Linked DNA regions of Homo sapiens: region 1 is linked to region 2. The links come from fine-mapping of genetic effects on gene expression. A gene starts in region 2. The other region holds a variant in brackets. All regions are shown on one strand. Distances are between the middles of the regions.

What was found. PIP is the estimated chance that this variant, and not a neighbour inherited with it, causes the effect.
Region 1: its variant is the best candidate, but not a certain one, in a credible set for the expression of LY9 in blood mononuclear cells (TOPMed, PIP 0.56).

Annotation. Positions count from the first base shown.
Region 1 is chr1:160,814,908-160,828,219 of GRCh38, forward strand. It overlaps LY9 (lymphocyte antigen 9), which reads left to right. Exons shown (of 10, transcript NM_002348.4): 5 at 1,687-1,956; 6 at 3,311-3,412; 7 at 4,414-4,467; 8 at 8,558-8,889; 9 at 9,274-9,342; 10 at 12,841-13,312. The coding sequence ends at 12,909. Among named protein-coding and RNA genes, the nearest start is that of LY9, 25 kb to the left of the region's middle. The variant A/G (reference allele first, on the strand shown) is at 8,863.
Region 2 is chr1:160,787,460-160,801,733 of GRCh38, forward strand. LY9 (lymphocyte antigen 9) reads left to right here and starts at 8,715. Exons shown (of 10, transcript NM_002348.4): 1 at 8,715-8,852; 2 at 12,294-12,623. The coding sequence starts at 8,729. It overlaps LOC105371470 (a long non-coding RNA gene), which reads right to left and starts at 2,403. Exons shown (of 3, transcript NR_188636.1): 1 at 2,336-2,403. RefSeq lists a silencer at 1,970-2,162 and enhancers at 2,493-2,612, 2,663-2,732, 2,763-2,882.

The DNA.
Region 1 (13,312 bases), 27 kb after region 2:
GTTGATTCATAGGAGGCAAACTCATGACTAGCTGCTGGACAAGTCTACCCGCCAAAGTGCCCCTGGCTCTAGGCTGCCAGTTAGGCCTCCACCACCCAACTTTAGGTGCTTGCCCCGGTCCTTCTGCACTGAGTGTCAGAAGGGACTAGGAGGCCAGGTGCGGTGGCTCACACCTATAATCCCGGTACTTTGGGAGGCTGAGGCAGGTGAATCACCTGAGGTCAGGAATTTGAGACCAGGCTGGCCAACATGGTAAACCCCGTCTCTACTAAAAACACAAAAATTAGCTGGGTTCGGTGGTGGGCGCCTGTAATCCAAGCTACTCTAGAGGCTGAGGCAGGAAAATCGCTCGAACCCCAAGGGGCGGAGGTTTCAGTGAGCCGAGATCATGCCACTTCACTCCAGCCTGAGAGAAAGAGCAAGACTCCGTCTAAAAAAAACAAAACAAAACAAAACAAAGGGACTGGGAACTCACCAACCTGCATTTTTAAATTTTTGAGATGGAGTCATGCTCTGTCACCCAGGCTGGAGTACAGTGGCACGATCTCAGCTCACTGCAACCTCTGACTACCAAGTTCAAGGGATTCTTCTGCCTCAGCCTCCCAAGTAGCTGGGACTACAGGCACACGCCACCACAACCAGCTAATTTTTGTACTTTTAGTAGAGATAGGGTTTTGCCATATTGGCCAGGCAAGTCTCAAACTCCTGACCTCAGGTGATCCGCTGCCTCAGCCTCCCAAAGTGCTGGGATTACAGGCATGAGCCATGGCACCTGGCCCCAACCTGCATTTTTATAAACTATTATCATTTTGAATAAGGCCAAAGTTGGCTGGGGTGAAATCAGAGAAGACTGAGGAGAAGCCCTTGGTGTCCAAAGACACTGTGGCCTCCAAGAAGGTGGGCCACTCAGTTCCCCTGGGGGTGAGGAACAGAATTTGCATTCTACCTCCTCAGCCCTGGGCCTCACAGGAGCTTGGCTTGGCAATTTGCATGGTTTATGTTTACCTGTTCCTTCACTTGTGCCATTCAGACATGGTCAGCATACCCCCTGCCTGAGTTTGTCAATGTCTAGGTATCTGTGAAGAGTCACTATCATGGTTTTGTTAAAATATGAAGCAAGTCGGCCAAGTCCATGCCTATTGCACACAATGCCTCAAATATAAAGGAACCCACAAGGTTAAGTAAAAATAATAAACAGGAAACAAATAGAGTCAGTCTTATTGTTTCTTTTAAAGTTGCTAACATTTATTGAACATTTACTCTGTGTCAGGTACAGCGCTCACCTCTCTGCATCCCTTATCTCATATAAGTAAACAAATCAGCCTCAAAGCCAAGCCTTGAAGGGTCTTCACAGCACATGGAAGTGTTGCGCTCATCTGTGTTGATTGGTTTGCTTGCTTTCACAGCTGTAACTAACTGTATAGAATGAGGTTGTGTCTTTCTTTCTTCACTTTTCATCATTTCCCTTGTTTCTCACCTGAGCATCAAGAGGCAAAGAGGTGTGTCTGAGATGTCACAAGTAGTGAGGAAAATGCCAGGTATACTCCAAAATTCCTGTGGCTCCTGGAGGCACTTTGCCGGCAGTATCAACACTCAGCTTCATGAATATATTTTCAATGAATGAAGACAGGTGACTGCTCAGGGGGCAGGCCTGATTCCACATGGAGTCTGCCTCTCTCCTCACAGGCAGGCTGAGGAAGCCCAAAATCACGTGGAGCCTCAGGCACAGTGAGGATGGCATCTGCAGGATCAGCCTGACCTGCTCCGTGGAGGACGGGGGAAACACTGTCATGTACACATGGACCCCGCTGCAGAAGGAAGCTGTTGTGTCCCAAGGGGAATCACACCTCAATGTCTCATGGAGAAGCAGTGAAAATCACCCCAACCTCACATGCACAGCCAGCAACCCTGTCAGCAGGAGTTCCCACCAGTTTCTTTCTGAGAACATCTGTTCAGGTTTCTCTCCATCTCTATTTACTCAGGTCACAGGACCTTGGGGCCTCCAAGAGTTTGCATCCTGACTGATTCTTTATGAAGTGCAGTAAGAGGCTGTGGGTGAGAGCCCTTTAGAGTGGCATGCTTCCACAGATATATGAGAGTCACGCATGTGATTTTAATGTTCTAATAGCCACGTTAGAAAAAGCAAGAAGAAATAAAGTTATTTTAATAATATGTTTTATTTAACTGAATATATCCAAAATATCATTATTCAACGTGTATTCAATACAAAAAAATTCATTAGACACTACATTTTATTTTGTACTAAGTCTTTGAGAGCCAGTATGTATTTTACACTTAGAGCACGTCTCGATTCCGATGCTAAATTTTCACTGAAAGTGTTTAATCTATATTCAGACTTCGTAAAATTTACAGTTGAAAAAATAGATTTATGCACCCAAGTTATTCCAAGCATATTTATCAGTTTTTCAAGAAGGAATTGAGTAGCCATTTTTAAATTTAAACTAAAACTAAATAAAAGAAGCAATTTGGTGTCTCAGTAATACTAGCCACACTTCAAGGGCTTATGCATAGCTTGTGGCTACCATATTGAACAGCACAGAGTTACAGGCTTGTGGAGAAAAGCCAATAGGAAGCTGATATGGAAAGGGATGTGGACCACACAGGAACAAAGGCTGCGTGAGTGGGAGCTAGAAAAGAAGCCCCAGTGGCCCTTAATAAATGCTAAGTACTATTCTAGGCCTTCAGGCATTTTTGCACAATCTTCGCAACAATCCTACAGAGTAGATATTCTCGTTTTTCCCCTTTATATGGATAAAGAAACTGAGGCTCAGAAAAGATAAGGGACTTATCCAAGGTCACACCATAAAAGCTGGTTTCGAACCCTGAGCTCTATCTTCTGCTCTTCCGTAGAAGGAAGCAGAAAAAAGGTACGGTCTACCCAGGATCTGACAATGTTGGGTCAGATTGTGTCTGGCAGACAGATCTAGAGTCCAGCTTAACAGGAATCTGGAACTCCCCTCATATCATTTACAGCGGGGCAGTGTAATGTGGCGATTAAGGGCGCTGTAGGATCTGCACTCGAACCTCAGGTCAGACACTTGAAACACTGTGACACTGGGCAAGCCGTAAACCTCTCTACCCAGGGACTGTCTGCCTCAGGTACTGCTATAACCTCTTGCCTAGAGTAATGCTTGCTCGAAAAATGGTTGTAGAATGAATGAAAAGAAAGACTTTCCACAACGTCATGGATTTTAAGGGGCAGGTAGGATGGCCATCATGTTCTGTGCATTGTTTGCTCCAGTGTGTCTTGTCATTATTTGAATTAACATCACTCATTTCCTCCTCAAAGGACCTGAGAGAAACACAAAGCTTTGGATTGGGTTGTTCCTGATGGTTTGCCTTCTGTGCGTTGGGATCTTCAGCTGGTGCATTTGGAAGCGAAAAGGACGGTGTGAGTTTCCGAGATCAATGTTGTCCGCCAGTGCTAGGCCATTTCCCTGGGACTTGTGGAGGCTTCTCTGCCCTCACACAATCCCGTGCTACCCCTCCCTGCCAGCATCTTATTTCTTCTCAGAGCAATGGGGGAGGGGTGTCAGTTGGGACTCTTTACTCACAAATAATAGAAGCCCAGTTCAAACTGGCTTAGACAGAAAAAAAAAGGCATGTGGGAGCAGGGAGAGTGATTTATTATTTTTTCACTTAAATAATCAATCTGTGGGGAAGGCAGGGATAGAGCTGGCATAATGGAGAAATGTCACCAGAGGCTCAAAAGTCATCAGAGCTCTCCACCTTTCATCTCTACTGTGTATTTTGAGTCAGCTTAACTCTTCCTACTGCAGCCCGCTGAGGGAAGGGGTGGGAGCGAGGGGAGGAGTGTACCACAACACAACAGCTGGCAGCTCCAGACCCACACATACTAACAGCTCCGACACCAGACAGGGAAGAAAATGTGCTTCCCTCTAACTCCAATTTAAAGAATGTCAGAAATAGCTCTGATTGGCCCAAGTTAAGGTCATGTGGCTGCTGCTTGGACCAATTTCTATAGCCAAGAAGATACACTATTATGATTGGCAGCTCCTCTAGAATCCCAGTATTGGAGTGGAAATGAAGTAGTAGCCAAAAAGAGCAGAATGGGTAGAACACATGGGGTCCCTGGAAGAATTACTGAATTGCAGGCAAACTACTCTGATCAGTGGCTATGGCAGAGGAGCTCTCTCTTCTGGAGGGATGGCAGGAAGCTCCAGAGCCTCCACCTCTGCAGAAAGTAGCCCTAGACTCTGGCCACCCCTTCACATAGGCCTGGCTTCTCATCAGGGTTCATCCTCCTTCCTGAAGCCTTTTCCCTGTCTATGTCCCAGAAGTCTCTCCCCTTCTCATTTGACTCTCACAGAATAAAAGACACCTCTCACCTCACAGCCCTCTTGATAAACCTTCTCTAACTTTGTTTCTCAGGTTCAGTCCCAGCCTTCTGTTCCAGCCAAGCTGAGGCCCCAGCGGATACACCAGGTAACATCACCCATGACACAGGCTATGGGGTATCTGGTCCAAATGGAAGTTCTAAAGTCTTGCTGCTCAAAGTGTGGTCTGCTGGCCAGCAGTGTGGGCATCACCCAGGAAACTTGTTAGAAATGCAAAATCTGACCAGGTGCCGTGGCTCACACCTGTAATCCCAGCACTTCGGGAGGCTGAGGCAGGTAGATCACTTGAGGCCAGGAGTTCAAGACCAGCCTGGCCAACAAAGTGAAACCCTGTCTCTACTAAAAATAGAAAAAATTATCTGGGCATGGTGGTGCACGCCTGTAATCCCAGCTACTCGGGAGGCTGAGGCATGAGAATCTATTTAACCTGGGAGGTGGAGGTTGCAGTCAGCCTAGATCACGCCACTGCACTACAGTCTGGGCAACAGGGCAAGACTCTGTCTCAAAAAAAAAAAAAAAAAACAGAAAGAGAAAGAAAGAGAGAGAAAGAAAGGAAGGAAGGAAGGAAGGGAGGGAGGGAGGGAGGGAGGGAGGGAATCTTGGGCATCACCCCAGAATACTGATTCCAAACCTGTATTTTAACAAGATCCATAAGTGATTCATATGCCTACTGAAGTTTGAAAAGGAAGGTAGCATAGAAACAAAAGCCAAGATAGACTCCTTAGAGATGGTCACCAGAGCTAGGAGAGGCAGTCTGTCCCCCAGGGTCTCTAGGGTTCCTTGGGCATTAGCCATTCACCATTTGAATGTGGACTACAATGAGGATGGAGTTATTGTCTCCATTCTGAGAACAGAGAAACAAAGGCCAGATGGAACAGTACATCTGTGGTAGAAAAAAATTTAAAACTTAATTAAAATTAAACTTCAGGAGACTGTACAACCTATTACCTAAGAGCATCGTGGGAAATGGAACTGCTCTGACAGGTTTTAGTGTGGGGAGCTGAGATGCCTGCCTTTACTCCCCCACTCCCATGCCACAGTGTCCTAAAATTTCACCTTAAACTCTGGAGCTCTGGAGTGCTAAGGAATCCCCAACCTGTGCTCACTCTAACCAAATCCTGCTTTAAAAAATAAATAAATAAATAAAAAATAAAACTATATGTCACCCCTCATGGCAGGGATTCCCCATGGAGATGGAATCAGAGGCAGGACTGGGCAGGGAGCATGTGACGATATGGGCTCTTCTGATGGAAAAGCATAACCAAGAGACAGGGGGCAAGGAAGGGAATTAGGCTGGACTATGAAGCTCCCCATCAGCTCCCTCCTCACTACTGACAGGACAGAGCCCTGGTGTCCCCCTGCCTGAACCCTCCTTCCTTGGGCAGAGGGTAAAGAGATGTTGGGGCCACCACCACCTCCCTACCTCTTCTCTCCCCCAGAACCCTTCTTGAACCTCCAAGGCCTGCTTCTTTAACCTCTCCAAGGTCTCCTCTTCCCTAGATCCACTGCCACTGCCTTAGTTCATGTTGTCACCAATTTGTTGTTTAATTGAATAGTTTTTTTTTTTTTTTAATTCAAAAGTCAGACTGGGCACGGTGGCTCACGCCTATAATCCCAGTACTTTGGGAGGCTGAGGCAGGTAGATCACCTGAGGTCAGGAATTCAAGACCAGCCTGGCCAACATGGTGAAACCCCGTCTCTACCAAAAATATAAAAATTAGCCAGGCATGGTGGCACATGCCTGTAATCCCAGCTACTCTGGAGGCTGAGGCAGGAGAATCACTTGAACCTGGAAGGCAGAGGTTGCAGTGAGCTGAGACTGCACCATTGCACTCCAACCTGGGCAAAAAAAGTGAAACTTTGCTAAAAAAAAAAAAAAAAAACCATATATTCACATGGCATACAGTTAAAAGTAGTTCTCTTTCCAAATTCCATCTCCAGGTTCTAAGTCTCTCCCCCAAGAGACAACCACTGCTGAGATTTCTACAGACCTGAATCCTTTCAGAAACTTTTAATGCATTTGCAGGTTTCATACATATTTGTGTGGGGAGGGTGTTCCTTTAACTTCACATATGGGAGCAATCTATAACACTTTTTTTCTAAACCTTGCTTTTTGATCTTAACAGTACATCCCAGCAATATTAATGTTTGTAGATTAAAACTGATTCCCATTTATTCCATTCTACACATTTGTTTAACTAATTTACTTTACCAGTCCTTATTAACAGACATTCTCATTCCTTGTTACTTCTTTCCTAAAATATGCTAATAGTTTCTTTGCAGACTATTTCCTCTCATCACTTTGCCAAGCTCAACTCTGACTTCTCTAAAACCCTCAATAGCCCCTAATGGCCTTTGTCTGTTCAAAAGGCGATATAACCAAGTGGTCAAGTGTATGGGTTCTGAGGTAGGATAACCCTGTGCTCAAACCCTAGCTCTCCTCCTTATGAATCCCTAAGCCTCAGTTTCCTTACCTTCCAAAATGAAGGTATCTATTTTCACTCAGTATTGAGCGAAAGAGAAAGAGGGGCCAGCCGGGAGGGGGCAGGATTGAGCAGCGGTTAAGAGCATCAGGGACAAGACTAGCTGTAGTCAAATCCTGGCCCTACCACTTACTCGGGAAAATACTTAATCTTTACGTGCCCGAGTTTCCTCATCTACAAAAAATAAATACGGATAGTTATTGTCTATGCTTCATGGGGTTTTAGGCAGACTAAATAAACTTATTCATGAAAAGCATTTAGAACTGTGCCTCGCACACGGTAGGCACTTACTAAATATGAGCATCAGGTCAAATTGAAGGGGCTATGTTGTCTGAGATATAAACTCAGGGTTTGTCCTCGCGTGCCGGGAAAGTTTAGGACACAGACACACAGGAGGAGTTTAGGAGCGGACGTTCAATAAGTAGAAGAAAAGAAAAAGAGAAACAGCTTCCTCTATAGAGGAAGGGGTCTCAGAGGGGTGGGGACCGGCTGCTGGTGAATGCGCTGAGTTCTATAGTCCAGTTTGAGGAGGCGGTGTCTGATTTACCTAGGGCTCACAGATTGGTTCGATAAGGCATGACGTTTACGTAGTGCCTGGGAAAGGCTGGTTGCCGCACCCTAATCTTCTTATGCAAATGGATTTTCCAGTTTATTGGCACCATCTTATCTGCTCCTTTCAATACAGTGGCTGGCAGGGAAGGGAAGATGGAGCCGCCATTTTGAAAATGTCTATTCCTTAGTCCCTGCTGGTGTTCACCCATGCAAGCTCCCAGCTTGCAGGCTGCTCTTTGTTAGAAAATGATTTGGGGCTGCTTTTCAATAAAAAGAAAAGCCTGACCAAGGACTCCCATATCCTTACTATCTGCCTAAGTAATTTCTTCTTAACTCCTGTATCAAAATGGGCTACTTCATGTGCCCCACAGGCAGGGTTGACATCCACCCAGTGTGCCATGACAGCGTTCACAGCATATCCACCCAGTGGGCCACACCGGCCCTCACAGCGCATCCACCATGCCACTGTTCACAGGTGCCCATGCTGATTGCCTAAGGCCTGACCATTGCAATTGTTAAGTATTTTTAATATCATCCTTTCGGAAAAAGAGACTGCTCCAGGCTTTACACCTGCCTCTAATCATGCTGTTCCCTCCTCCACCTAGAATACCCTTCCACTCATCGAAATATTGAATCCCTATTCAAGACCCACCTCAATTCTGCCACTTTCATGAGTTCCTCTCTGCTTCTCTAACCAGAGTCATCTCCTCTCAACTCTGCACTTTCCTCATACGTTCCATAGGATACTTGGCAAAGCTGGCCTTACATTACTGATTTACACATGCACCTGACTCCCCAGCTAGACAGGGTGCTCCTCCAGGGCCAGGTCTAATTTACCTTTGTGTTTCCCCAGAGTACCTGCAATGATGCTTGGCATGGTTTATCCCACAGGGCCAGAGAGTTGCTAAAGTCTATCACATGTCATATTTAATATTTATCAAATGAATGAATAAATGAATGCTTGAAAGGAAGGAGGAAGGGAGAGTGGAATGGACCCCCTGAGGGAAGACAGGACAAAACAATCTCCTTCGGTTCTCTAGGCCTCATCTAATGCAGGCATCAGAGCAGGCTGGGGCCTTGCAGCAAAGCAAGAAGAGAGGTGGGGTTGGCATACTTTTATCAGCCCTGCACAATGTGTTCCAGAACCCACAGCTGGCCACACGCTATACTCTGTGCTCTCCCAAGGATATGAGAAGCTGGACACTCCCCTCAGGCCTGCCAGGCAACAGCCTACACCCACCTCAGACAGCAGCTCTGACAGCAACCTCACAACTGAGGAGGATGAGGACAGGCCTGAGGTGCACAAGCCCATCAGTGGAAGATATGAGGTATTTGACCAGGTCACTCAGGAGGGCGCTGGACATGACCCAGCCCCTGAGGGCCAAGCAGACTATGATCCCGTCACTCCATATGTCACGGAAGTTGAGTCTGTGGTTGGAGAGAACACC[A/G]TGTATGCACAAGTGTTCAACTTACAGGTGAGCCCTTCTGATCAATACACCTTCCTCCTCCTCCCATGTCTAGCGGCATCTGAGATCCTGGATGACTAGTTCCTCCAAACTGGGGGCTGGGGCCTGGAAACAGGACTAGGGGCATACGGGCAGGGACTCATGGCTGTGTCCATGTTTACCAAACCTTGGGATCCTGTGGAACGAGGGACTTGTCCCTCAGCTCTCATTCTTGGGCCACTAATAAGGAAGGTGTTGGAGAACCAGAGGCACCGTCCCCACTGCACTAAGGCAGCTCCCACCCTGTGTGTGAGATGGGAAGCCAGGGGGTATCCCCTCTCCTCAAGGGTTGAGGGTAAAACTGAAAAGCTCTCATGTGGTCACTAGGGCTCATCTGCTGTTGGTGTGTTACAGGGAAAGACCCCAGTTTCTCAGAAGGAAGAGAGCTCAGCCACAATCTACTGCTCCATACGGAAACCTCAGGTGGTGAGAACTACATTCTCTGTATCCCAAGGCCCACAGAGTGAGGAACTATTCCTTAGACCCTTTGAACTGAAAATCCGAGATTCCCATGGCTAAGGATCTTAAATTCTACCCACTATGCACCCCTCAGATACATTCCATGGTCAACAGAGATGCATAAACAAATATTCCTGACATCTGTGTGACCAAAGGCTGAACATTTCTAATTGATTTAATAATATCTTATGTTGGTTATTTTTAACACTGACCTGAATGACAGCTTATACACTCAAACAAGGTAGGGTCTTTATAGCTTTTTAAATCTATCTCTAACCCTAATCCTAATCTACCTAAATGACAACTTCTCAAAACCATTGAAAATTAGCTAACAATTTAACAACAAGAATTTTTGGAAAATACACCACCACCTACAGTACATTAGTTTTATTCTAGTGTTTAAAAAAATCCCAGCCGGGCGCGGTGGCTCATACCTGTAATCCCAGCACTTTGGGAGGCCAAGGCGGGTGGATCACAAGGTCAGGAGATGGAGACCATCCTGGCTAACATGGTGAAACTCCGTCTCTACTAAAAATACAAAAAAAATTAGCCAGGCGTGGTGGCAGGCGCCTGTAGTTCCAACTACTCAGAGACTGAGGCAGGAGAATGGCGTGAACCCAGGAGGCAGAGCTTACAGTGAGCCAAGTTCGTGCCACTGCACTCCAGCCTGGGCAACAGAACAAGACTCCATCTCAAAAAAAAAAAAAAAAAAAAAATTCCCAGCCTGGGCAACATGGTGAAACCCTGTCTTTATAAAAAGTTCAAAAAAAATTACCCAGGCCTGTGGTGGTACACACCTGTAGTCCCAGCTACTTAGGACACTTAAGTGGGAGGACCGCTTGAGCCGGGGAGTTCAAGGCTGCAGTGAGCCAAGATCATGCCACTGAAATCTAGCCTGGGTGACAGAGTGAGACCATGTCTTAAAAAAAAAAAAAAATCCCTTACAGGTAGAATTTATCATTAAATAATCATAATGATAATAATAACTGACTTGCTTTTATATGAAGTTTTGCAGTTACAATACCTTGATACACATTCTTCTTTGATCTTTGTAATACTTCTAGAAAAGTGTTGTCATCCACATTTTATAGCCAAAGAAACAGATTCAAGGAAGTTAATTTTGCCTAAGGTGACAAAGATAGTACTTGGAAGTTCCAGTATTAAGAACCATGAGGCGTTTTAAGATCATCCTGAGTAATCTTAAATAATTCACCTTGATCTGGCTGTCCATTTCATTTTCACTTTCCTGAAAACATCGTGTCCATTCATACTTTTGCTTTCAAATCTCCCCCAAATTCCCTCCCTATAACATATTCAAAAAAATATTTTTTAAAAAACTCTCGGCTGGGCGTGGTGGCTCATGCCTGTAATCCCAGCACTTTGGGAGGCCGAGGCAGGTGGATCACCTGAGGTCAGGAGTTCAAGACCAGCCTGGCCAACATGGTAAAACCCCATCTCTACTAAAAATATTAAAATTACCTGAATGTGGTGGCAGGCACCTGTAATCCCAGCTACTCAGGAGGCTGAGGCAGGAGAATTGCTTGAACCCAGGAGGTGGAGGTTGCGGTGAGCAGAGATCACACCATTGCACTCCAGCCTGGGCAACAAGAGCAAAACTCCATCTCAAAAAAAAAGAAAAGACTACAGTTGACCCTTGAACAATTCAGGGGTTTAGGAGTGCCAACCCCACCCCACTCCATGCAATCAAAAATCATTCTATAACTTTGACTCTCCAGAACTTAACTACTAACAGCCTACTGTTGACCAGAAGCCTTACCAAAAACATAAACATTTGATTAACACATATTTTGCATGTTACGTGTATTATATACTGTATTCTTACAATAAAGTAAGCTAGAGAAAAGAAATTATTAAGAAAATCATAAGGAAGATAAAATATGTATACTATTCATTAAGTGGAATTGGATCATTGTAAAGGTCTTCATCCTCACCTTCACATTGAGTAGGCTGAGGAGGAAGAGGAAGGGTTGGTCTTGTTCTTTCAAGAGTGGTAGAGGTAAAAGAGGTAGAGGAGGTAAAAGGGGAGGCAGGAGAGGCAGGCACACTCAGTGTGATGTTTATTGAAAAAAAATCTGCATATAAGTGGCCATGCAGTTCAAACATATGTTGCACTTATGCCTGGTGTTCCATTATTGGAACACTAAGCGTGTAGGAGTTATTTATATTCTACTGCTCAAGATCATCACCAGGGTCTGATTTTTCACTCATGCACAAATTCAAAAAATTGCAACCTCCTGCGTAAATGGGTTAAAGTTACTTGACTACTTAATAAATTGTATGCACAGTTCCTAAGGGTTTTTCAGAAGCTGAAGGTGGGGGATATCACTGCACTGTGGTAAAGAGGAAACACATCATGAAAAAGGAATTTGGGTTGGGCCTTAAAAGATGGATAGAATTTGCTCAGTAAACACTTGTTGGGATGTGTGGTTTGGTTCAACCATCATCCATCTCATCCTGACTTCTAGACAGTAGTCTAATGCTTAGCCAGCTAGAGACTTTGCCTTGGAACCTAAGGCCAAATCTGTGCTGTTCACTGCATTCCCAGAGCTGCTTTCTACTCTGGCCTGGCCCTTTGTGTTTGGGTCAATACCGGTCAAACTTAAAGTCAGTCCCTGCTCTGAGTTTCAGAATGACCACCACATGTCTGGTCAGTCCTGCAAGGCACACACACTACCCTGGAGACTGAGACCCCTGAAACCACCTCACTTACAGTGTAAGTTGAAATCATTGCATTTCCTGAGCCAAACTCTTGACAACTATATCTTTTGTCTTCAGAATTGTCAGGACCAGGAATTCTGGTTTTGGATCTCTGAAGGCCATTATTGCCTACTTGATCTGGAAATTCTCAAACCTACTTTAGTTCTTATTTCTGATATACCTCTCTGTACAACATCTCAAAGGTTTATGCTATCCCCAAGCTGTTGCTGGTACCCAACCTCCCGCTCCTCTGGGTCAGCACAGAGCTTATCTGCTCTTTAGAGCCTTCCCTGAACACTCTCAGACAGGGAAGCCTAAGAACCCTTGGGAACAGCTTGGGGACTAATGGTCTGGACCATTACTTTGGAACTTAACCTCTGCCATCTAAATTATCTTCTTATAAATGTTCGTTTTGTTTCTCCAGCTAGGGCAGAGATTGGAATCATTTGACAGTAGCTTCGTGAGGGCAAGCCCCTTCATTGTCATTTTTTTATCCCCTGGATTTGCTGCACTAAACTGTCTTGTGTTGTCCTTGCAGAGAGTCCAGCCCACAGCCTTTCCTATTAGGAGCCTCCATAAATGCTTGGCATCAGGCTGGTTGATTGCGCCATCCCTGGGCCAGCACATATGACTCTACTTCTGTAGGATGGACCAGTCATAGCCTGGCCTTGCCTTCCTCTTTCATCAGCCTCACTCTTCCAAGGCTTTATTAACCATATTCTTTTGTGGATTTTTGGCTCACAGGTGGTGCCACCACCACAACAGAATGATCTTGAGATTCCTGAAAGTCCTACCTATGAAAATTTCACCTGAAAGGAAAAGCAGCTGCTGCCTCTCTCCTGGGACCGTGGGGTTGGAAAGTCAGCTGGACCTCATGGGGCCTGGGGCTCACAGACAGAAGCACCTCAGAATTTCCTTCAGTGCCTCAGAGATGCCTGGATGTGGCCCCTCCCCCTCCTTCTCACCCTTAAGGACTCCCAAACCCATTAATAGTTCAGACACAGGCTCCTTCTTGGAGCCTATGGGCTTCAGATGTCTTTGCCCCATTTGTCACCTCGCACACTTATAGCGTTTCCTCCTCGAAATTCTACCAAGACTGGTCAAATGTTGCTGAGGGGCCTGGACCAGCTGTCCTTTACACCACCTTCTCAACACTGCTGAAAAGAACCCAAGAGAATTGTCACACATGACACAAGATGTACATAATATCATGCTC
Region 2 (14,274 bases):
AATAAAATACCTAGGAATCCACCTTACAAGGGACGTGAAGGACCTCTTCAAGGAGAACTACAAACCACTGCTCAAGGAAATAAAAGAGGATAAAAACAAATGGAAGAACATTCCATGCTCATGGGTAGGAAGAATCAATATCATGAAAATGGCCATACTGTCCAAGGTAATTTATAGATTCAATGCCATCCCCATCAAGCTACCAATGACTTTCTTCACAGAATTGGAAAAAACTACTTTAAAGTTCATATGGAACCAAAAAAGAGCCCGCATCGCCAAGTCAATCCTAAGCCAAAAGAACAAAGCTGGAGGCATCATGCTACCTGACTTCAAACTATGCTACAAGGCTACAGTAACCAAAACAGCATGGTACTGGTACCAAAACAGAGATATAGATCAATGGAACAGAACAGAGCCCTCAGAAATAACGCCGCATATCTACAACTATCTGATCTTTGACAAACCTGACAAAAACAAGCAATGGGGAAAGGATTCCCTATTTAATAAATGGTGCTGGGAAAACTGGCTAGCCATATGTAGAAAGCTGAAACTGGATCCCTTCCTTACACCTTATACAAAAATCAATTCAAGATGGATTAAAGACTTAAACGTTAAACCTAAAACCATAAAAACCCTAGAAGAAAACCTAGGCATTACCATTCAGGACATAGGCACGGGCAAGGACTTCATGTCTAAAACACCAAAAGCAATGGCAACAAAAGCCAAAATTGACAAATGGGATCTAATTAAACTAAAGAGCTTCTGCACAGCAAAAGAAACTACCATCAGAGTGAACAGGCAACCCACAAAATGGGAGAAAGTTTTTGCAACATACTCATCTGACAAAGGACTAATATCCAGAATCTGCAATGAACTCAAACAAATTTACAAGAAAAAAACAAACAACCCCATCAAAAAGTGGGTGAAGGACATGAACAGACACAGGAACACTTTTACACTGTTGGTGGGACTGTAAACTAGTTCAACCATTGTGGAAGTCAGTGTGATGATTCCTCAGGGATCTAGAAACAGAAATACCATTTGACCCAGCCATCCCATTACTGGGTATATACCCAAAGGACTATAATTCATGCTGCTATAAAGACACATGCACACGTATGTTTACTGCGGCACTATTCACAATAGCAAAGACTTGGAACCAACCCAAATGTCCAACAATGATAGACTGGATTAAGAAAATGTGGCACATATACACCATGGAATACTATGCAGCCATAAAAAATGATGAGTTCATGTTCTTTGTAGGGACATGGATGAAATTGGAAATCATCATTCTCAGTAAACTATCGCAAGAAGAAAAAACCAAACACCGCATATTCTCACTCATAGGTGGGAATTGAACAATGAGAACACATGGACACAGGAAGGGGAACATCACACTCTGGGGACTGTTGTGGGGTGGGGGGAGGGGGGAGGGATAGCATTGGGAGATATACCTAATGCTAGATGACGAGTTAGTGGGTGCAGCGCACCAGCATGTCACATGTATACAAATGTAATTAACCTGCACATTGTGCACATGTACCCTAAAACTTAAAGTATAATTAAAAAAAAAAGAACAGAACGTGCTGGTTTTCTCCTGATGGAGAATAAAAGTGAAAGCTTGAAACTCTGGAGACTAAGAGCAGAACCTGTCCCCTCATCATGAATATCTCAAGATCTGTGTTCCCCTAGCCTCCAAGTCCCAGGCCCATCCCCCTGTCATCTGTCAGGTTCTTAGAGGTGAGCAGTGAGAATCCACAGGGACAGGAATTACCAGTGTGCCAGGCTTGAGCTCCCCCACTGAAACCACTTATGGGACATGAAAGGCCCAACTCAGGGTGAAGGGTGACTCCCAGCGGCTGGCAGGAGAGGGAGGAAGGGGAAAGAGATGCAAGAGAACCAGATACAAAACACAAATCCCAAGGCACTACATCACCACAGGTCTTTAAAAACCTGGACATCTCTGGAAACATGACTGAAATGACATGCTGCAGACTACATGCGTCTTGGAACTGACTGTGGCTGATCCTCCATCTCATGCCTCCACAATTCAGCCTCTCTGGAAATGCTCAGGCTCCTTGTGATACATTAGTCAAAGAGATGTGAGGGTCACAAGGACACCGTCTAGAGCTGCGTGACCTGAGGTTATAGCACATGCGCACAGACTTACGCACCCACGCGCACGTGCGCACACATACACACACACACACACGCACACACAGAGCCTGGCTCCCATAGAGGCAGCACCTCAATGAAAATTGCACATTCCTAGAGTAAACCAGTGTACGCAGCAAATAGACGAGCCTGGGAGGCAGTGGAGGGGTGGACTTACCTATGAAAAGACCAAGGAGGAGCAACAACCATGGTAGAGAATGGGCCATAAAGTGCACCTGCAGAACTGCTTGTCACATGGCAGCAGATGACGGACTATGCATGCGTAAATGTCAGCCTACTACCAGTTCCTGTTTTTAGTGTCACCACTTTAATCACATGTAGTTTATGTGTCACAAGATATGAAGATGAGCGGACGCAAAAGAAAGAAGGATGAGAAGCGCCTGAACGAGCTACTTAAAAGCCAACGCCGGTGACATCACAGCCTTGCTTTAAACCCCTCGGGGGTGTACCACCCCCACAAGGCTAAAGTCCGGGGTCAAAGTCCTTGTGGACAAGGCCCTTCATGATTGGCTTGTGTCTTGCCAACCTACCTGGCCACACTCTGTCACCAAGTCTCACAGCTTGGACTCCAGTCACCACAGACTGCTTCTAAAGCAGTCCCCTTGGGATTTCTCATTTTTGTAAATGCAGCTCTACTTCCTCAGGCCATCTTACTGATTGGATTGCCCTAGTCTCTGTCATCTACCTCACCCTAACACCCTCCTATTGCCCATCTCCAGTCATCACCACCTTGGGAAAGGCCTCCCTGAAGCCCCAGGCTAGGATGGTGCTAGGACATCCATTCCCTCTTGCTGTTGGACATCAGGCCTGTGGTTATGGGTCAGGACACTTGTACTACCAGCCTCCCAGTTCTCAGGCCTTCTGACTCAGACCGGGACCTACACCACCAGCTTCCCTGGTACTCCAGCTTGCAGTCACCAGATCATGAGACTTCTCAGCCTCCATGATCATGTGAGCCAATTCCTATTAAAAGAGAAAAAAGGAAACAATATATATATTCAAGGTGTGGTTTCTCTGAAGATCCCTGGCTAATACAACTGCCTGTGGCATTTGACACTTGAAATACTCTCTCCTCCTGGACGCCAGGATACCGTTCCCCCCGGGTTCTCTTCTCTCCTTCACTCAATGCATATTCGTTGAGTTCCTGCTAGGTGCCACAAAAGCTCTGTGCTAAGGACTGGGGATACAGAGATGAAAGGAAGTGTCTGCAACCGTGTTGCTTACAGTCTAGTGGGAAAGAAAATTTATGTCAATAAAAAATAAAGTAATGCAGGTGGTTTTACTTTCTGGTTGGGTACAGTGTGTTGGGCATGAGGCTTTCTGGTTTGAATACTGCCTCTGCTGCTTGCTAGTTGTGTGACCTAGGCAAACTACCTGCCAATCAATGAGAGTTAGGAGTTCTCCTTTATAATTTATTTCCTTGAAGATGGTTTTTGCACATAAAAATTTATTCATAGGCCATATTGCTTTTAAGAACTCATATTCAATTTATTAAATAAATAAATTTAAAACCTAAGTCAGCCTTAAGTTCAGTTCAGCTTACAAATCTTACTGTTCTGCTTACAAATTAGGCAAATTTTAACTACCCTTCTTGAGGACTATTAATAAGATTTAACTCATGGCCAGGCATGGTGGCTCACACCTGGAATCCTAGCACTTTGGGAGGCCGAGGCAAGTGGATCACTTCGAGCTCAGGAGTTCGAGACCAGCCTGAGCAACATGGCGAAACCCCATCTCTACAAGAAATACAAAAATGAGCCGGGCATGGTGGCTCATGACTGTGGTCCCAGCTACTCAGGAGGCTGAGGCTGGAGGATCGCTTGAGCAGGGAAGTAAAGGTTGTAGTGAGCCGAGATCGTACCACTGCACTTCAGCCTTGGTCACAGAGCAACATCCTGTCTCAAAAGTAAAATAATAATAATAATAATAATTTGACTCATTTTACAAATTTATAAGTTGATTCCCTTATTATTCTAACTTATAAATGTAATATATTTAGTTTTGTTTTAAAGTATTTTAATCAGCAAATAAACTTCCCAAATACTTAAAGGCTTGTAAACCTAATACATTAAACTTCTAAGTGTGGTCATTCTTAAGTTGTCTTAAATTATTCAATTCTTCATGTAAATTAAGATTTCCAACTAAAATCACAAATGCACAAATGTAAATCAATTGCATAGTTTAAATCAGAAACACAAATATCTCAGTTCATTCTGGCTGCTATAACAAAAATATCTTAAACTGGGCAATTTATAAGTAGTGGAAATTTATTTCTTATGGTTCTGCAAGCTGGGAAGTCCAAGATCAAGGTGCCAGCAGACTCTCGGTCTGGTTAGGGCTCACTCTGTGCTTCCAAGGTGGGGCCTTGTTGCTGCATCCTCCAGAGGAGATGAACACTGTCTTCACATGGCAGAATAGTGGAAGGGCAAGAAAGGGCCAGATAACTCTTTGAAGTCTCTTTTATAAGGGCATTAATCCCATATATGAAAGCAGAGTGCTCATGACTTAATCATTTCCCAAAAGGCCCCACCTCTCAATACTATCGCTTTGGGGTTTAAGTTCCAACATATAGGACAGGCACAGTGGCTCACACCTGTAATCCCAGCACTTTGGGAGGCCGAGGCAGGTGGATTACCTGTGGTTGGGAGTTCGAGACCAGCCTGGCCAACATAGTGAAACCCTGTCTCTACTAAAAATACAAAATTAGTCAGGTGTGGTGGCACGTGCCTGTAGTCCCAGCTACTCGGGAGTCTGAGGCAGGAGAATCACTTGAACCCAAGAGGCAAAGGTTGCAGTGAGCTGAGATTGCACCACTACACTCCAACCTGGGTGATAGAGTGAGACTCCATCTCATTAAAAAAAAAAAAGTTTCCAACATATGAATTTTGGAGGGACAAATACATTCAAACCGTGGCAACAAAGTTTACTACAATTTTAATGAACTAAATTTCCTCAAACAATACATATACTTAAAAAATACTAACTGATTACCTTGAACATGTCTATTTTGTATTCCTTATTTTCCCAGGATTGAAAGATTCATAACCACAAAAGAAACAATTATGTCATCCCATTTACAGCCATTTCCTGGGGTACCTTCTCAATTAGCTAAAGTTGCTTAATGACCAGAAATATCACTGACATGTTAACTAATGGTATTACCAGCACCCCTTTTTTTTTGAGGTGGAGTTTCGCTCTTGTTGCCCAGGCTGCAGTGCAATGGCACAATCTCGGCTCACCGCAACCTCCGCCTCCCAGGTTCAAGCGATTCTCCTTCCTCAGCCTCCCCAGTAGCTGGGATTACAGGCGCGTGCCACCACACCCGGCTAATTTTGTTTTTTTGTTTTTTGTTTTTTTTTTTTAGTAGAGACGGGGTTTCACCATGTTAGCCAGGATGGTCTCGATCTCCTGACATCGTGATCCGCCCGCCTCCGCCTCCCAATAATTTTGTATTTTTAATAGAGACAGGGTTTCTCCATATTGGTCAGGCTGGTCCTGAGCTCCTGACCTCACGTGATCTGCCCACCTCGGCCTCCCAAAGTGCTGAGATTACAGGCGTGAGCCAATGTGCCCAGCTGGCAGCACCACTTTTTGCTTGTTTTGTTGCTACCCTCTAAAAGGCTGGTCTCATAGCCTATATCCCTAGATTCCACTTGAACACTGTGACATTCCCTAATTCTTCCCTCTACTGTGGCTGCAGCAGTTGATTTGATGTTGAATTTCTTTAGCTCCTAACATATATTTGTCTTTCCATCTAAGTGTAAAAAGCTTTGAGCTTGTCAAAATTCTACAGTCTTTCATATTCTTCCAATCTGTAGTAGCATATATATACTGCAAGTCAAGACAACATTAGAAATAAAGTCCAAAAAATGCAATTGTGTAAAATGCAGGGTCGTCTTAATTGCACAGTGAATGAAGTGTTGGTTGGGGGCTGGTGGTGAAGCAACACAGCTGAGTATGTGGTTGTGGCTGCCAGACCCAAATCTCAACCCAGGCTGGAGTCTGATGCTACCTGGAGGCAATGCCCAGTTGACAGGGGTGATTCTGGGCCTGTAGCTGGCGGGACTCCAAGGACAGTAGCAGGGATTTCAAAAATTTTCCAGTCAGTCACACCCACTTGCTGGGGTGGTTGAAGTATACTGAGAAGGACAACACTGGAGACGCCGGGGCCAGCATCACTGGATGTTGCTCCCTGATTCCCAATGCTAGTGCCTTTGCCTCCCTGTCCTGATGAGAATATTAGCCCTCCCCATGTGAGGACAGGGCACACTTAACAAATGCATCATACCAAAATTTATATTAATTTAGGTTTTACTATACTTAAATGATAATACTTAAATTGGATTTTGTGTATTATAAGGCTGTGTCCTCCTATGGTCACAACTTCAAAGGAGGTCATTTCAGTGATGTTACTTTCCTAAATCTCAGTTTTCTCATCTCTAAAATGGGGATAATTGGAGTATCATCCAAATAGGGTCTATCTTAGGATTAAAGGAGAAAACATATGTAAAGTTCTAAACACAGAGGCTCACTCATAGTAATTACCCAATAAATGTTAGTAATGATTTTTATTATTACCAATCTCTCTGAATTCCCTTCTGCCTTTGCCCTCGCCTCCCATGCAGACTGTTCCTGCTCTCATGTTCTGTACCCAGACTCCTTCAATAGCTTCCGCACCTGTCTTCTCATCCCCAGGCTCATCCCTTCCACCCATTCTCCCTCCACTCTGCAGCTCCAGGAAGCTTCCTACTCCTACTGGATTCTTGTTGCCTTTAGCTTGGTAACAGGATGCTTTATCTGGGCTCTGGTAACCTCTCCTGACCGTATGTCCTGCAATCCCCTCTAGACAGCCCATGTTCTAGTCACAGGACCAAGGCTAGAGTGAAACAAGACACGCTCCTAGTGCACAAAATTTAAAGATTTTCGAGATTCTGTCACTTTCAATATTGTGCAACATCAGATCATGACCAGCCTCTAAAGATGCTTTCCATGGACATAAGCCTGTTATCTTAATGGTTTCTCTCTCTCTCTCCCTTCTTCCTTTGAACCCAGACTTCCTGGGTTCAAGTCCTTACTAACTATAAAACTTATAGTAAGCTATTTAACCCCTCTCCACCTCAGTTTTCTCATTTATAGAATGGGGATGATAAAAGATATCTCATAAAACTATTGTAAGATCAAATGAGTGAATATGTTAAAGTGTCAGAAGATGGACTAGCACTCTGTAAGCTTTCATCGAATATTAGCTAAAACTACACATTCTGCCAGCCTCAAGTTTTCCTGCCAAGTCCCCTTAATGTTACAGCCTAAGTAAACAAATGACCTGAAGCCCGAAACACAAACCATAGCATGGCCAGCTATTACGCTACTGACAAGAAGAAGGAGGAGAAAAAGACAGTTTCCCAAGTCAGGATATAGGGAATCATGCCATTCTCCAGCCTACCTTTTCAACTCAGTCACCTCTACGCTGTCACATACGATGTCCACCCCCATTGCAGTCTCCCTGATGCCTTTGTCCATATTAAAAGTCCTTCATTGCATGTGACAGAAAGCTAGCACAAACTGCCTTGAGCAAAATAGAAAATGTATTGGGTCACTGTATTAGTTATCTGTTGCTGTGTAACAAATTGCCCCAAACTTCACAGCTAAAAACAATAAGCATTTTTGATGAAAAATAAAAAATTGAAAAAAAATTTAAAAACCAAACATTTATTATCTCACAGTTTCTCTTGATAAGGAATCTGGGCATGGCTTAGCTGGGTGCCTCTGGCTTAAGGTACTCACACAACTAACATCACGGTGTCAGCCAGGGCTGCAGTCATTTCAAGGACCTCCTGGGGAGGATCCACTTCCAGTCTCACTCATGTGATTCTTGGCTAGCCTCAGTCCTCATGGACAGTTGGCCAGAGGAATCAGCTCCTCGCCGATTGTTGGCTGGGGGCCTCCCTCTGTTCTTTGTTTTGGAACCCTCTCCCTAAAGTATCTCACAAAACAATACCTGGCTCCCCTCAGTGTAAGGTAGGGAGACAGAGATAGTGGGAAAGACAGAGAGGGAGAGAGGGCAAGAGAAAGAGAGAGCGCATATGCACACACATGCTAACCCAAGATGGAAGTCACAGCTTTTTTGTAACCTAATCTCAGAAGTGACCCATCCCACATCTCTGCCACATTCTATTCACTTGAAGCAAGTCACTAAATCCAGGCCACACTAAAGAAGAGGTGATTACACAGAGGCATGAATGCCAGGAGGTACAGATCTTTAGCAGTCACCTTTAGGAGCCAAATTTAGAACCCAAGTCCCTTGATGTCAAAGCAAGTGATGCTCCACATCAGTCACAAATGAGGCCCTGAATAGACTTGGGACCTCTACCTGCCTGCGCAGATGGGAGGAGTCTGTGGTGTTTTGTATAAACAACCCTCCCTCTGAGACACACACACATACACATACACATGCACACACACACTCATATACACATGCAGAAGCTGTGACACGTGCGGAAGCTGTGGTAAGTGCATCCTCCTTCAGTCTCAGTTCTGAAAATAGATCATCATGGTGGCACCAAAGAGTCACACAGATGACTGGGCTCCTGGGCCTTTCTCCAGTAAGCCACAGAGGAGTCAGCTGCAAATATTCTCTTCTGTTCTACAGACCTCTCTCCTCTTCCTGCTCATGGGTAAGTCCACTTTATGGCCACCACTTCTTGCTACTGCGGTTCTTCTGAGGCCAGTTGCATTCCCTGCCTGGGAGATTCTTTTTTTTGTTTTTTGTTTTTTTTAACGGAGTCTCACTCTGTTGCCAGGCTGGAGTGAAGTGGCGCAATCTCGGCTCACTGCAACCTCCACCTCCTGGGTTCAAGCGATTCTCCTACCTCAGCCTCTTGAGTAGCTGGGATTACAGGTGCATGCCAACACACCCAGCTAATCTTTGTATTTTTAGTAGGGGCAGGGTTTCACTATGTTGGCCACGGTGGTCTCGATCTCTTGACCTCGTGATCTGCCCAGCTCAGCCACCTGAAGTGCTGGGATTACAGGCGTGAGCCCAGTTCTTGTTGGTAAAATCGGGAAACTCATCTCCTTGCCAGAAATTACTTTGCATGTGTGCATATTCGTGCACTATGAAGGGGGTAACATTCTAGCCCCGGTCTCAAATAGCTCTGGGCTCAAACTACATTTCTCTTGCCCTCACATTTTCCTAAGAAATGCCAAGTATATAATGAGTTTGTTCCCTGTATGGTGTGGATAAAACCCACAGAGGGATCCAGGAAAATCCCCTGATGAGAAGCCACCTAGCAATTTCCTAGGGATGGAGAGAACTTCTGGAGCTTCTTTCTATGTATCCTGCCTTGGTTATCATATATGCTGGCTTTATTACTGAGGTTTCACTGGGGACCTGGACGCGGTTAGGTGACCATGGGCAAGGTGGCGTTTATCTGGATATCCTTTTCTCCTCAACCTTATTCCTCCCTATCAAGGCCCAACTCCTGGGAAACATCTCTCCGCTGCATGGCCCGGAACCCCACTGTCCAGCAGATAGAGCCAATCCAGTACCCCAGAGAGGATCTCAGCCACCTGGGACTGTGGCAGCTACTGTCCTTCTGTGCTCCCGCTTTCTCCAGGGCTTCAGGGATGATGGTGCAGGTAGCACTAGAGATCTGAGAGCAGTGGGGGTTGGCAGTTGGTGCCTGAAGGGAGCTTTAGAAACACTCCTAGATGCAGATATGGGTGAACGAGGAGCCTAGACCTCAGAGCTGAGGTCCAGTCTGACCTCTTTTCACTTTCAATTTTATCTTGGCTCATCAAAACACACAGAAAGCAGCAAGGCTGTTTATGTTTACCTCCAACCTTTGGGGTGTTCCTTGATTGTGTTGAGCAAACCTGAAATAAGCTACATTCAAGGTCATCCAAGCCGCAAATGATCAATGCAGTGAATTTCAAACAGTTCAGAGCAAAGAGGCATCTCCATTGGTCTGGCTCCACTGATTAGGATGACCTCAAATCTCACTCTTTTGGTCTGAAAGGATGATGCTTTTGTATCTCCAAAGAGTCATTTCAGGAACTTAAAAGGCAGTCGAGTGAAAAGACCCCTCTCACTTTAGTATCAGGAACATCTGAAATTAAATCATTGCTCCATCATTTATTAGTGATGAGGGCCTCTATTTCTTAAGTGTAAAATATAGTTAGTAGGATGCATCATGCAACACTCTTACAGATTGTAGATGATCTATACACACACACACACACACACACACACACGTATAGTGGCACATAGTTGGCAGAAGCTATGATTGTTATTATTATAATTACTGTTACGTGCATTCTTTGGAAACTATTAAGAGACAGGTGAGTCAAATTCAGTTTTGCAATCTTTGAATGCTCTTTTATTATTTGTCCTACGGTGCAATTCAAAATAAAATGACTGGTACTGGGGACCTGTCATTGTACTGGGAGCTGCATTGCACTGTCTTCTGCAACAAGATTTGCCCTGTGAGGCCCACATCCTGCCCCCTCCACTGAGAGTCTGTGAGGCTTTTGTTTATGGTTTTTGTCTGATGTAAGAAAATTTGAAGTCAAAACGAGTCATATGCACCCAGTCAAGACCCAGCAGCTCCTGGGCTTCCAGGATACAGATGGGCAGTACTCCTGGCCTCCCTACTCCAGGGGCATCATGGACATAGGATCTGGACTCTGTGACTGATCAACCCTGTAATCTCAGGGAAGTGGATTAAATTCTCTAAATTTCAGCTCCTCATCTGTAAAAAGGGGCTAATTATAGTATAGTTATGAGAATTAAATGAGATAATTTACATAAAGTACCTAATGCACACATAGCAATCGTAAGCAGTCTCTTCCAGATGGGAAGAGCTCTCTTTTAGAAAACCTCAAACCAACCTCACATCAACTCAGCCTGAATCTGCCTAAAGAATCCACCTGACCCAACCTTCTCATGTCCAGGATCCCTAGCCCTGCATGCTCCATAGCTGCCTCTCCACAAGGTGCAAGTGCTTGGCTGATGGAGGTCTAAGCAGAGAACCCCCATGACCTGCACCAAGCAGCCTCTCTCCTTCCAGTGTCTGCATATTCTGTATCCTCTGGGTTTTCAGAGCTTGCTTCAGCTTTCTTCCGCCCCTCCAGGCTATGCTTATGCTCCTTTTTTGTCTCTAACATTTTCTACTTATTTTCCCACCCAGAATTCCTGGTGGAGTCTGGGTCCCAAACCCATCTGTTTTGGTCTAGAATTTCAAAAGTGCTCTCCAGAGCCTCGGAAGCCCTGGAATCTGGGAATCCAAGCTAGGGTCACCCAGAAGACACCCACAGGGTCCCTACAAGAAAATTAACTGCCTTGGCCAAATACCAGCTTCCTAGATGCCTTGGTAACAATGTTTATCAGGAATATGATCTTGCCTAAGATGAGGAAATCAGGAACTGTATTAGTACCACCAGCTATTCCCACCCCCAAACCTGGCCAAACCAAAGTCAATCTGAGATGCCATGGACAATAAGGGTGAGGTAGAGGTAGGAGAAGCTCCTTTAGTTCCCGACACTGCTATGAGAGTTCTCAAACATTCAGAAAAGTTGGAGCATTTACCCTGAACATTCATAGGCCTACTACCTAGATTCTAACACAAACGTTTTACTTTGCTTGCTTTATCACTCGCCTGCCCATCTAACCATCCCTCTACCCACCCATATTTTTAAAAATATGCTCCTTTTTACTTCATTGGCTCTTCACAATTTGCAGCAACCTGCTTTCATTTCATTTTTACCATATCCCTTGAAGAAAATGGTGCAGGTATGAGCATTTCAATCTTTTAGATAAGATTCACTGAAAAATTCAGAAATGTACCCAAAGTCACAAGGCTAATTCCTCTACTGGAACAGAAACCCAGAAGATCTGTTTCACAGATTGTTGTGGCTGCTTTTAAGGGAGACAGTGTTTGGGGAATGGAGGAATTAATGACTGTGCTAGGCAATTGACCTAGAAGAAGGAGGACAAGAATCTCATTTCATTTCTCAGCATCTGACATTTATGCCCAATGTATATTCACAGAGTGAAAGAAAGAAGGCTAGCTCAAGGAGTCTAGCTGCTCCTCCAAGTCCCTCTTCTATCTCTGCAGGACTAAGAGCCTCTGGAAAGGACTCAGCCCCAACAGTGGTGTCAGGGATCCTAGGGGGTTCCGTGACTCTCCCCCTAAACATCTCAGTAGACACAGAGATTGAGAACGTCATCTGGATTGGTCCCAAAAATGCTCTTGCTTTCGCACGTCCCAAAGAAAATGTAACCATTATGGTCAAAAGCTACCTGGGCCGACTAGACATCACCAAGTGGAGTTACTCCCTGTGCATCAGCAATCTGACTCTGAATGATGCAGGATCCTACAAAGCCCAGATAAACCAAAGGAATTTTGAAGTCACCACTGAGGAGGAATTCACCCTGTTCGTCTATGGTGAGTTCCAGAGAGCTTCTGTGTTTTGATCTTTTCTTTTTTTTATTTGTGCAAATTTATGGGGTATGTGTGAAATTTTGTTATATGTATATAGTGCATACTGATCAAGTCAGAGTTTTCAGTGTGTCTGCTGCCTGAGTACAATATATTCCTGTTAAGTATAGTCACCCTACTCTGCTATCAAAAATTGAATTGATTTTCTCTATCTTACTGTATGTTTGTACCCTTTAACCCACTTCTCTTCATCATCCCCCCACCACCCACTCCCCACACTCACCCTTCTCAGTCTCTGCTATCTATCTTTCCACCATCCACTTCCACATGATCAAAATTTTTAGTACCAACATATAAGTGAGAACATGCGATATGTGTCTTTTTGTGCCTAGCTTATTTAACTTAAGATAATGACCTCCAGTTTCAGCCACATTGCTGCAAAAGACATGATTTCATTCTTTTTTATGGATTTTTAAATTGTTTAAATATATTTAGGGGGTACAAGTGTAGATTTATTGCATGCACATATTGCATGCTGGGGAAGTCTGGGCTTTTAGTGCACCCATCACCCAAAGAGTGACCATTGTACTCAATAGATAATTTTTCAGCCCTCACTCCTCTCCCACCCTCCTACCTCTTGTAGGCTCCGCTATCCATTATTCCTACTCTGTATGTCCATGTGTACCCATTGCTTCCACTTATAGGTGAGAACGTGTGGTATTTTACTTTCTGTTTCTGAGTTATTTCAGCTAGGATAATGGCCTCCAGTTTCATCCATGGTGCTGCAAAAGACATGACTTCATTCTTTTGTGGCTGATTAGTATTCCATGATGTGTATAAATACATGTATGTATGTGTATACTGCATTTTCTTTATCCATTCTTCCGCTAAGGGACACAGATTAATTCTATATCTTTGCTATTGAGAATAGTGCTGCAATAAACATACAAATGCAGGTATTCCTTGCATATATCAATTTCTTTTCTTTTCCTTTGGGTAGATATCCAGTAGTGGTATTACTGGATCAAATGCTAATTAAATGTTTAGTTTTTTGAGAAATCTTCATATTGTTTTGCATAGTGGCTGTACTGGTTTCCATCCCCACCAAGAGTGTCTAAGATTTCCCCTTTTCTCCACATCCTGCCAACATGTGGTTAGTGTTTAAATAACAGCCATTCTGACTGGAGTGAGATAATATCTCATTGTGATTTTGATTTGTATTTCTCAGATAATTGGTGATATTGAGCATTTTTAATATATCTGTTGGTCATGTGTATGTCTTCTTTTGAGAAATGTCTGTATCCTTTGCCCACTTTTTAATAGAATTATTCGTTTTTTCTTGTTGAGTTATTTGAGTTCCTTGTATGTTCTGGATATTACTTCCCTGTCAGATGAATAGTTTACAAATATATCTGCCATTCAACTCGTTGTCTCTTCACTCTGTTGATTATTTCTTTTGCTGTGCAAAAGCTTGTTAGTTTAAATCCCGTTTGTCTATTTTTGTTTTTGTTACCTGTGCTTTTGAGGTCTTAGTCATAAATTTATTTGTCCAGACCAATGTCCAGGAGAGTTTTCCCTAGGTTTTCTTCTAGTATTTTTATAGTTTCAGGTCTTACATTCAAGTCTTTTAACTGATTTTGAGGAGGTTTTTTATATG